Regions from separate parts of the Homo sapiens genome. Here region 2 is linked to region 1. The links come from fine-mapping of genetic effects on gene expression. A gene starts in region 1. The other region holds a variant in brackets. All regions are shown on one strand. Distances are between the middles of the regions.

Region 1 (5,372 bases):
CACCTGTGTCCCTGCCTTCCCTCCCCGCCAGGAAAACCGCAGCTCCTGTCACAGGGGACACTGGAATCTGGAGAGACTTCTTGCCCCAACCTCGGCAAGAGGAGACTGTTGGGGACCTGTTGGGCATGACATGTAGACCTCCCAGAGGTGCTGCAAAGACCTAGGGAAGGTAACAGCCTGGGAAGAGACAAGAAGGAAGTGAAAACCTTCTGAGCCTCCATGAAAACACGAATCATCTGTTTAGTACAACAGACCTCAGTTCCACCCTGTATTCACCTCGTGCAAGGAAAGCAGGATTTCATCTCCCCAATTTACAGATAGGGAGACTGAGGCAAGTGGGAGAAGCAGCTTGCCAGGAGGCTCTGAGGGGACATAGCAAGCAGGGCCAGCACCCGCGTGTCTAGACTCCCAAATAGGCCTTTCTAGGGACCTCTTCACCATGCCACCCTGCCTCCCTGCCAGCCCCACTCATGCCAGACGCTGCAGAGGAGTAAATTGTCCCTCCATCCAACAGCAAACAGTCCCTGATGCCGGGCCCATTTTCCAGGGTGGAGGAGGATGCAGGAGCAGCTCCTGAGGCTACAAGAACCCAATTATTGGGCTGGGCTGGGAAAGTGGCCACACCCACCCGCCCGCAGCCCGGCGAGGACCACACCTGAAGCGCCTCTGACCCTCGGTCTAGGACTCCGCCTGAGATGCCCCATTCCTTGATCTGGCAGAGAGGGGAGGCATGGGGGAGGGGCAGTGGAACTAGGCTGGGCCCCATCCAGCCCTTCCTATGGTTGAGGTTTTGGGGAGGCCCGGAGGAAAAAGTGAAGCTGCTGTGGTTGGTTTCCAAGCAGCCACTTGGTCTGGAAGGAGGGGTAAGGCACTCACAGGGGTGCAACCCCATCCCCTCTCTGGGTCCGCCTTGCGGCCCTACACACTCCCCTCTCATCCTGTACCAGAGTGGGCTTTGGGCATCTGGAGGAAGGTGCCCCTGAGAGGCAGGGTGGGTGTGTTGGCCTGGCTTCCAGATGTGAGTCACTCCTGGTCCGCATCTTCGTCCCTCTTTGGTGCCAGCAGTTTCAGAAGGGGGACGGCCAGGTGGAGAAGGAGGTCCCCGTGACAACCCCCCAGCATGCCCCTCATTTTGCCCAGTGCTCCCCACGCCCCTTCCTCCACCAGGTTCCTGAGTGTAAGGTGAGCACCCCTCCCACCCACCCTCAATTCTCTGCCACAGTGATCTTCCCTAGAGCCCAAATCTGGCCTCAGTACTCACCCTCCCTCTAGCCCTGGCTCCCCAGCCTCCTCCCATACAACAATGTCCAAGCCCTGTGCCCAGCCCATGAGGCCCTCCATGGTCCAGGTCCTGTTGGCTTCCCAGCCTCATCCCCGTTTTTCCCCCACATGCCCGGAACACTGTTCTCCAGCCCTGGCCTTCTCATTCTGGAGCTTCTGCCCATGGTGGAAAGCCAGGCACTTCTCCGCCTACCCTTCACGACCCACCTCCTTTACTCATGCAGCCGCCAGCCCACCATAGCACTTTCTCATGGCTTCCCTTACAGCCATCATCATCTACTTCTTTTTATTTTTATTTTTATTTTTTATTTTTTTTAATTGAGACTGAGTTTCACTCTTATTGCCCAGGCTGGAGTGCAATAGACTGATCTCGGATCACTGCAACCTCTGCCTCCTGGGTTCAAGCGATTCTCCTGCCTCAGCCTCAGGAGTAGCAGGGATTACAGGCATATGCCACCATGCCCAGCTAATTTTGTATTTTTAGTAGAGATGGGGTTTCTCCGTGTTGGTCAGGCTAGTCTCGAACTCCTAACCTTAGGTGATCCGCCCGCCTCGGCTTCCTAAAGAGCTGGGATTACCGGCGTGAGCCACTGCGCCCAGCCCATCATCTACTTCTTAACGTGGTTGTGGTCAGATTCCACCCCAACTATGCGCTCCTTGAGAGTGGGGACTGGGAGGGGTTCAGCTTTGAATCCTCAGAGCCCAGGGCCAGGTACATAGTAGGTGCTCAGTAAAATACCTGCTGAACACTCAGGGAAGGGAGGGCTGTGCCGGGCCTCAGAGGAGATGTTAAGAGAGCAGACAGGGTGGCCAGGCATGGTGGCTCACACCTGTAATCCCATTACTTTGGGAGGCTGAGGCGGGTGGATCAACTGAGGTCAGGAGTTTGAGACCAGCCTGGCCAACGTGGTGAAACCCCGTCTCTACTAAAAGTACATAAATTAGCCGGGTGTGGTGGTGGGGGCCTGTAGTCCCAGCTACTCGGGAGGCTGAGGCAGGAGAATCAGTTGAACCTGGGAGGCAGAGGTTGCAGTGAGCTGAGATCACGCCACTGCACTCCAGCCTGGGCGACAGAGCGAGACTCCATCTCAAAAATAAATATATAAATAAATAAAAATAAAAAAGAGAAAGGACAGGGTGCACAGAGCCAGGACCCCACCCCCTCCTGGTCTGGACCACCCTGGGCCATCTCCTAAGCTTGACACTCTCAGGCCTGAGGCTGTCAGGCCAGGGCGCTTTGACTATCCCCTGCCTGCCCCTGAACGCGGCCAAGCCCGAGGCCTTAGCCAAGCCCTGCAGCCTCAGGCTTGGCGCCCGGCCCAGCCTTTCTTTAGCCTTCCCGAGGAGCCAGCGAGAGAGCGCTGCAGCAGCCGCAGTCCTTGCTTCCGGGGAAGGCCCGGGTGGGGCCAGGGCCTGTGGTTAAGTCAGTGGCCCTCTGCAGACGCGCACGCAGCAGGAGCCACGCCCTGGTCCCTGCCCGGGAGTGGCCTGGTCTCCCCCAGCTCTGATTCCCTGAAGGACCCTGCACCTCCTCAGCCATCTTCTCTGGGCACCCCCTGAGCCCAGCCTGCTGGCCACAGGCCCCTTCCCGCCAACTTGTGGGCCTAGCTCATCATCAAACTATTTTCCACTGGCTTCCCCCAATCTCTGCCACAGCACAATTTTGGTGGGGAGGTGGAGAGGGATGAAGGAGAATAGGAGGTGGAGCTTGGACTCTGGCCGGGGGCGGCGGGGTGAGGGGGGGCAGCAGCTCGCCACTCTGATTGGTCACCTCTGCTCCAAAACTGGCTTCAAAATTCCACGGACTCCGCCCCCAGTGGCCCCCAGCCCTATCCTGACTTGCAATTGGCTGAACTTTCAGGGGGCGGGGCTCACCCGGTCCGGTCCAGTTAAAAGGGTGGGAGCGTCCGGGGGCCCATCTCTCTCGGGTGGAGTCTTCTGACAGCTGGTGCGCCTGCCCGGGAACATCCTCCTGGACTCAATCATGGCTTGTGTGAGTGTGGGGACCCCCCCCCAAGGTCCAGGGGATAGGGCAGGAACTGATGGCCAGAGGAGAGCTGGGCAGATCGGGAGCAGATTCTAGCCCCAGCTGTGTGGCCTGGAACCAGTGCCTTCTCTTTTCTGGACCTCAGTGGCCACATCTGTAAAATGGGGGTGGGCGCCATGGTCCCTCAAGGCCTTCTCTGCATTGATAATTGTCTGGATTCCTCCAGGGTCTGAAAGCACAGTTATTTCTGCCCAGGGTTGACATTCTGCAGCTCTCTGAGAAGTGAGCGTGGGAAGGGTGTGGCCAACTGGGGGACACCCAGGCCACTATCCCTTTCCCCCTCCTCCACCCCAAAGAGCCTCCTGTCCCCTCCCCCCTGCAGCTGTCCCGGTCACCAGGCCAGGGCAGAGTTACCCTCTGCTCCAGAGAACGCTGAAAAGTTGCCAGGACCCGAGACAAGCTGCCCAGGATGGGCCCTTCTAGGTCGGGGGTGGAGGGTGGTTGTGTCCAGGCTGGTGGCGGGGGGGGCGGGGGAAATTCCCTTCCACCACCCCCAAGCTGGGAGGTTGGGGTGGCAGGGAGGTGAGAATCTTCCTCGGGCCCCAGGGAAAGGGTTCAAGTTTCTGGCAGAAGAAACCACTCAAACCAGTTAACTCTTGCCCACCCACTCGGGGTGCCAGGGAACAGCAGTGCCCAGCAGTTTGCTCAATCTTGTTAACCCTGAGCCAGCCCAGCCACAGCCCGACTGCAGGGCTATTCTCCCTAATGCAGAGAGGCCGTGTTTTTCAGGGTCTCCTCTCTAGCCCCTGGGCCTCTTTGCAGAGAGGGGCTTGAAGGAGAATAGTGGGGTCGCCCGCCCCTAGCCACTTCCTCTCCAGCAGAGGGGCCGGCCCCTCCATTCAGTGTGACGGTGGGCCAAGTGTCGGCCCCTCCCCAGCCTGATCCTCTCCATCTGCGATGGGACAGAGCACCCCATCTCCCAAGTCACTCTTGAGTCCAAAATTCCCAAGCCAATCTGCAAAATCTTCTAGAGCCTGTCTTCTAGAACCTTCACGTTACAGACTGAAGCCAACCCCGGTGGGAATAGGGACTTTCCCAGGACCACATAGACAATCGGAGGCTGGAAATTACAGCTCAATCCTTTCCCCAGGCTTCCCCTTGGCTTGGTCAGAGGATGCCGGGCGGGAACAACCCCACTCCCACCCCCAGCCACCCCCGGACACTTCGAGCAGTGGAGGCCTTGTCCTCTAACCCGGCTGGGCCGGGGCTTGTCTGTGCAGGGTCTGGTCGCCAGCAACCTGAATCTCAAACCTGGAGAGTGCCTTCGAGTGCGAGGCGAGGTGGCTCCTGACGCTAAGAGGTGAGAAGTGAAGTCGGGGTGGTGGGCGGCAGGGACGGGCTTGGTCCAGCAGGGAGGGCGTGGCCGGCCAAGCCCACATCTCCTCCCTGGCCGGGAGCGGGTTAACGGCCAGCCGCCGATGCTGCGTTTTCTGGGTGACTCACTTCCCCCGCAGGGTCTGGGCGCCCCCACCGTTGCCGCCCCCTCCCCCGCTCCCTCCCTGCTGTAGCCTCTTAAACTAAACCAGCTGCAGCCTCGTCATCTGTAATACCTTGACTCCCCCGCCCCCACCCCTTTCCGGTCTGGGCGGGACCTGTCGCTGGGGAGGGCGGGGAGAGGAGTGGGGCGGGCGTCACCGCCGCCTTCCCCCTGAGTCCCTCCTTCCTGCGTCTGGTCATTCATTCATTCACTGGCTCAGTCCGGTCCTTCTTCCTTCACTTCTCATTCACTCAGACGGCTGCCTTATTTTCTCGGCAGTTAGGTGACCTTGGACCAGTCAACCAACCTCACCTAGCCTCAGTTTGTTAGAAAAACAAGGGGGGAGGTGGTTGTGTGGAGGAAGTGAGATGCGGCTGGCGCAGTGACAGTGAGGAGGATGAGGATCAGCTGATATTGTTAAGAGCCGCACACTTCTCATGCACTAATTTCATTTCAACCAAACCCTCAGAGGCAGGTATTGCTATTATCACCACTCAACAAATGTATTTATTATTTTATTTATTTATTTATTATTTTATTATTTTATTTATTTATTTTTTGAGACAC
Region 2 (5,372 bases), 200 kb after region 1:
GCTCTGTGATTGTGCCTACTAATAGATCACCCAGCTGGAGTGCAGTGACGCAGTCACAGCTCACGTCAGCCTCAACCTCCTGGGATCAGGCGATCATCCTACCTTAGTCTTCCGAATAGCTGGGCTTAAAGGCGCACACAACAACACCGGCTAATTTTTTTTTTTTTTTTTTTTTTTTTTTGAGACGAAGTCTCTGTCACCCAGGCTGGAGTACAGTGGTGCAATCTCAGCTCACTGCAACCTCCGCTTCCTGGGTTCAAGTGATTCTCCAGCCTTAGCCTCCTGAGTAGCTGGGACTACAGACGCGTGCCACCATGTCCAGCTAATTTTTGTATTTTTAGTAGAGATGGGGTTTCACTATTTGGCCAGGCTGGTCTCGAACTCCTGACCTCAGGCGATCCATCCACCTCAGCCTCCCAAAGTGCTGGGATTACAGGCGTGAGCCACCACGCCCAGCCAAAATGAACTTTTAATGGCTAGCATACTCTTAGGAGTTTCTGTTGTGATGCCTGTTACCTCAGATCATTAACATCTTGATGATAAGGACTTGATGATAATATCTTTTGTTTCAGTTATATCCTCCAGCAGTGCCTACATTTATTTATTCAGCATCAGTATGCTGAGTGTTCACTGGGTTCTAAATGTTTTGATATAAGGTGTGGATATTGGTGGGAAGGAGGATGGGTTCAAGAATTGGGAGGAGCTTCCTAGGCAGAGAATATCATGAGCAAAGTGGTTGAGACTTGAAAGTGTGGTGATGCAGCCGCACAATAAACTGTTCTGGCTGGAGGGCAAGTAGGTAGTAGGAATTGGGTTATTAGATTCTGAGAACCTTCATTAACCCAGGTAAAGTATAGTCCTGTGTCATTTGATGCTGCAGATACATTCTGAGAAATGCATCATTTGGTGATTTTGTTGTGTGAACATCATAGAATGTACTTACACAAACCTAGATGGGATAACCTACTACATACCCGGGCTACATGGTATAGCCTATGGCTCCTTGGCTACAAACGTCTAGAACATATTACTGTACTGAATACCATAGGCAGTTGTAACACAAAGGTATTTGTGTATCTAAGATACAGTAAAAATACAGGATTATAATCTTGCAGGATCACCATCCTATATGTGGCCCATGGCCCGTTGTTGACTGAAACGCTGTTGCACGGCACATTACTATTTAGTCTATATTTCTGTCGTCATCAAGGTTGCATCAAAGGTTTTGGGTAACTCGATCCTAACTGTGTAAAAGGATTGACCTGCTAGTGATGTGTGGGACAAACTGGAGAGACTAAGACAGAGGTGCCAGTAAGGAATCCAGAAGATGGCTAAGGAGGATCTGGAGCTAGGATGGAAGTTAGGTAGATCTAGAGGGAGGATTGGAAGAGATGTTGGGGAAGTTCAATGGCTGGTATGAAACAACTGGGTAAGTCAAAGATCTGTGCAGAGAATGGTGAGGCCAGTTGGCAGTGGGGACCTCAGGAAGTCCGTCTCATTTGACCCAGTACCACTCTCCACCCCATCCCCAGATTAACAAGCAGAATGAGCAGATGCATGCGCTGCTGGCCATTGCCCTCACGATGTACCCCATGCGTATTGATGAGAGCATTCACCTCCAGCTGCGGGAGAAATATGGGGACAAGATGTTGCGCATGCAGAAAGGTGACCCACAAGTCTATGAAGAACTTTTCAGTTACTCCTGCCCCAAGTTCCTGTCGCCTGTAGTGCCCAACTATGATAATGTGCACCCCAACTACCACAAAGAGCCCTTCCTGCAGCAGCTGAAGGTGTTTTCTGATGAAGTACAGCAGCAGGCCCAGCTTTCAACCATCCGCAGCTTCCTGAAGCTCTACACCACCATGCCTGTGGCCAAGCTGGCTGGCTTCCTGGACCTCACAGAGCAGGAGTTCCGGATCCAGCTTCTTGTCTTCAAACACAAGATGAAGAACCTCGTGTGGACCAGCGGTATCTCAGCCCTGGATGGTGAATTTCAGTCAGCCTCAGAGGTTGACTTCTACATTGATAAGGTATGCCTGTCCCCTGGGCTTGGGGTCTTGTATTAAGTGTTCAGTATCTTTCATTCACTATTGTGGGCACATGAAGTATATCGGGGAACAAAAAGATTCCTGGCCTTGTGGTGCTGCCACAAGGTGCCAGGTGTGGTGGCTCATGCCAGTAATACTAGTACTTTAGGGGAGGCTGGGGTGGGAGGATCACTCTAGCCCAGGAGTTCAAGACCAGCCTGGGCAACGTAGTGAGACCTTTTCTCTAT[T/TA]AAAAAAAAAAAAAAAAAAACACAAGAGATAAACAATAGATGGTTTTGTTTTGGTTTTTTTTTTGAGATGGAATTTCGCTCTCGTTGCCCAGGCTAGAATGTGATGGCACGATCTCGGCTCACCGCAACCTCCGCCTCCCAGGTTCAAGCCATTCTCCTGCCTCAGCCTCCTGAGTAGCTGGGATTACCGGCATGTGTTACCATGCCCAGCTAATTTTGTATTTTTCGTAGAAATGGGGTTTCTCCATGTTGGTCAGTCTGGTGTCAAACTCCCAACCTCAGGTGATCAGCCAGCCTTGGCCTCCCAAAGTGCTGGGATTACCAACAATAGATGTTATAATTAAACAATAGATGTTATAATTAAACAAACTATGTAGTAAGAAGTTGCCAAGCACTGCAGAGTAAAGGAAGGCAGAGGTGGTGGGAAGCACAGGTTGCAATGTTAAATACGGTGTTCAGACAGGCTTTGTTGAGAAAGTGAAGTTTAAGCTAAGCTAAGACTTGAAGGAGGTGAGGGAGTAGTGTTTTGGTTTTTTTTTTTTTTTTTTTGACAGTCTTGGTCTGTCGCCCAGGCTAGAGTGCAGTGGTGCAATCTCGGCTCCCTGCAACCTCCGCCTCCCAGGTTCAAGCAATTCTCCTGCCTCAGCATCCTGAGTAGCTGGAATTATAAGAGGCCGCCACCACACCTGGCTAATTTTTGTATTTTTAGTAGAGACAGGGTTTTGCCATGTTGGCCAGGCTAGTCTCAAACTCCTGACCTGAAGCGATCCATCTGGTGGAGAGTTCTTAATAGCTCACCAAAGGCTGGACACGGTGGCTCATGCCTGTAATCCCAGCACTTTGGGAGGCCGAGATGGACAGATCATGGGGTCAAGAGATCAAGACCATCCTAGCCAACATGGTGAAACCCCATCTCTACTAAAAATAAATTAGCTGGGCATGGTGGCGCATACCTGTAGTCCCAGCTACCCGGGAGGCTGAGGCAGGAGAATCACTTGAACCCAGGAGGCGGAGGTTGCAGTGAGCTGAGATCGCTGCACTGCACTGTAGCCTGGCAACAGAGCGACACTCCGTCTCAAAAAAAAAAAAAATAGCTCACCAGATATCTGGAGGAAGAGCCTTCCAGGCAGAGGAACAGTTAGAGCAAAGGCCCCGAAGAGGAGTGAGGCCAATAAGTTTAAGGGACAGTTGTAGTATGCCCGAGTAGCCTGAGAAAGGAGGCTGTGAAGATGAGATTGGAGAAAGGGGGATGGTGCTTTGTATACTGTTGGAGTACTTTACAAGTGGGAAGCCATTGTCCTGCTGCCTTCTTTATTTTTTTATTTTTAGTTAGCAATAATCACACCTCACATAACCCTCATTGGCCATACTGCCACTGCACAAAGCTTTTTTTTTTTTTTTGAGATGGAGTGTCATTCTGTCGTCCAGGCTGGAGTGCAGTGGCACGATCTTGGCTCACTGCAACCTCTGCCTCCCGGGTTCATGCGATTCTCTTGCCTCAGCCTCCTGAGTAGCTGGGATTACAGGCTCACACCACCACACCCAGCTAATATTTTGTGTATTTTTAGTAGAGACAGGGTTTCACTATGTTGACCAGACTGGTCTCCAACTCCTGACCTTGTGATCCGCCCGCCTCGGCCTCCCAGAGTGCTAGGATTACAGGCGTGAGCCATCGCGCCCGGTATTATTTTATTTTTATTTTATTTTATTTTATTTTGAGATGTCTCGCTCTGTCGCCTAGGCTGGAGTGCAGTGGCGCGATCTCAGCTCACTGTAAGCTTCACCTCCCAGGTTCACGCCATTCTCCTGCCTCAGCCTCCCGAGTAGCTGGGACTACAGACACCCGCCACCACACCTGGCTAATTTTTTGTATTTTTTAGTAGAGACGGGGTTTCACTGTGTTAGCCAGGATGGTCTCAATCTCCTGACCTCGTGATCCACCCACCTCGGCCTACCAAAGTGCTGAGATTACAGGCGTGAGCCACTGCATCCGGCTCTCTTTTTTGAGACAAGGTCTCACTCTGGTTGCCCAGGCTGGAGTGCAGTGGTGTGATCTCAGCTCACTGCAGCCTCAACTTCCTGGGTTCAGGTGATTGTCCTACCTCATCCTCCCAAGTAGCTGAGATTACAGGCGCACGTCACCACGACTGGCTAATTTTTGGTATTTTTAGTAGAGATGGGGTTTGGCCATGTTGCCCAGCCTGGTCTCGAACTCTGATATGTGCCACTGTTCCCAGCCGATTTTAAGTTTTTACTTTATAGAAACAGGGTCTCACTTTGTTGCCCAGGCTAGTTTCAAGTGATCCTCCTACCTTGGCCTCCCAAAATGCTGGGATTACTGGTGTGAGCCACTGCGCCTGTCCTGTCCTGATGTCTAACATCTTGGATTAGTGCTGCCTGTTTGTGAACTTTATATAATGGAATTACACAGTATGTACTCTTTAAGTCTGGCTTCTTTTGCTCAACGTTATAATTGAGTGAGTCACCGTCCATTGTGTGTAGCAGTGATTCCTTCATGTTTATTGTTCTGTGATAGTCCAGCATCTGCTGTTGTTATTGTACTGCAGTTTATCCATTCTCCCATTGATTAACGTTTGGATGGTTTGTATATTACAAAAAATACAAGTAAGGTTTTTACAGAGTGGCTAGTAATACATTTATATATGCCTATGTATGCCTCAAGTTCTTTCCAGAAGGATACACAAGCAACATAGCAGTAGCTTCCTCTCAGGAGGGGAGGTGGGTTGAAGAACAGTGTTAGTTTTCACTGGCACTTTTAAGTTCAAGCTGGACATTTTAATGTCTGATGAGATTTTCATTTTTATTTATTTATTTAGAGACAGAGTCTCATTGTATCACTCAGGCTGTAGTGCAGTGATGTGATCTTGGCTCACTGCCACCTCCGCCTCCTGGGTTCAAGCAATCCTTCTGTCTCAGCCTCCTGATTAGCTGGGACTACAGGCGCTGATGAGCTGATGAGGTTTTTAAAAGAATTGTTTTCTTTTTTTTTAGACTGAGTCTTGCTCTTGTTGCACAGGCTGGAGTGCAATGGCACAATCTTGGCTCACCGGAACCTCTGCCTCCCGGGTTCAGGCGA

Which allele goes with the higher level. Positions count from the first base shown, and alleles are read on the strand shown. Sizes are in standard deviations (SD) of each study's normalised expression.
As copies of T replace TA in region 2, the expression in memory regulatory T cells of the gene that starts at base 3,199 in region 1 goes down (large effect, 1.7 SD a copy in Schmiedel 2018).

The links. PIP is the estimated chance that this variant, and not a neighbour inherited with it, causes the effect.
Region 2: its variant is the best candidate, but not a certain one, in a credible set for the expression of LGALS1 in memory regulatory T cells (Schmiedel 2018, PIP 0.76).

Annotation. Positions count from the first base shown.
Region 1 is chr22:37,672,438-37,677,809 of GRCh38, forward strand. It overlaps LGALS1 (galectin 1), which reads left to right and starts at 3,199. Exons shown (of 4, transcript NM_002305.4): 1 at 3,199-3,274; 2 at 4,549-4,628. The coding sequence starts at 3,266. RefSeq lists silencers at 3,002-3,141, 4,662-5,171 and an enhancer at 5,015-5,372.
Region 2 is chr22:37,876,142-37,881,513 of GRCh38, forward strand. EIF3L (eukaryotic translation initiation factor 3 subunit L) reads left to right here. Exons shown (of 13, transcript NM_016091.4): 11 at 1,533-2,030. Among named protein-coding and RNA genes, the nearest start is that of MICALL1, 27 kb to the right of the region's middle. RefSeq lists a silencer at 3,937-4,096. The variant T/TA (reference allele first, on the strand shown) is at 2,276.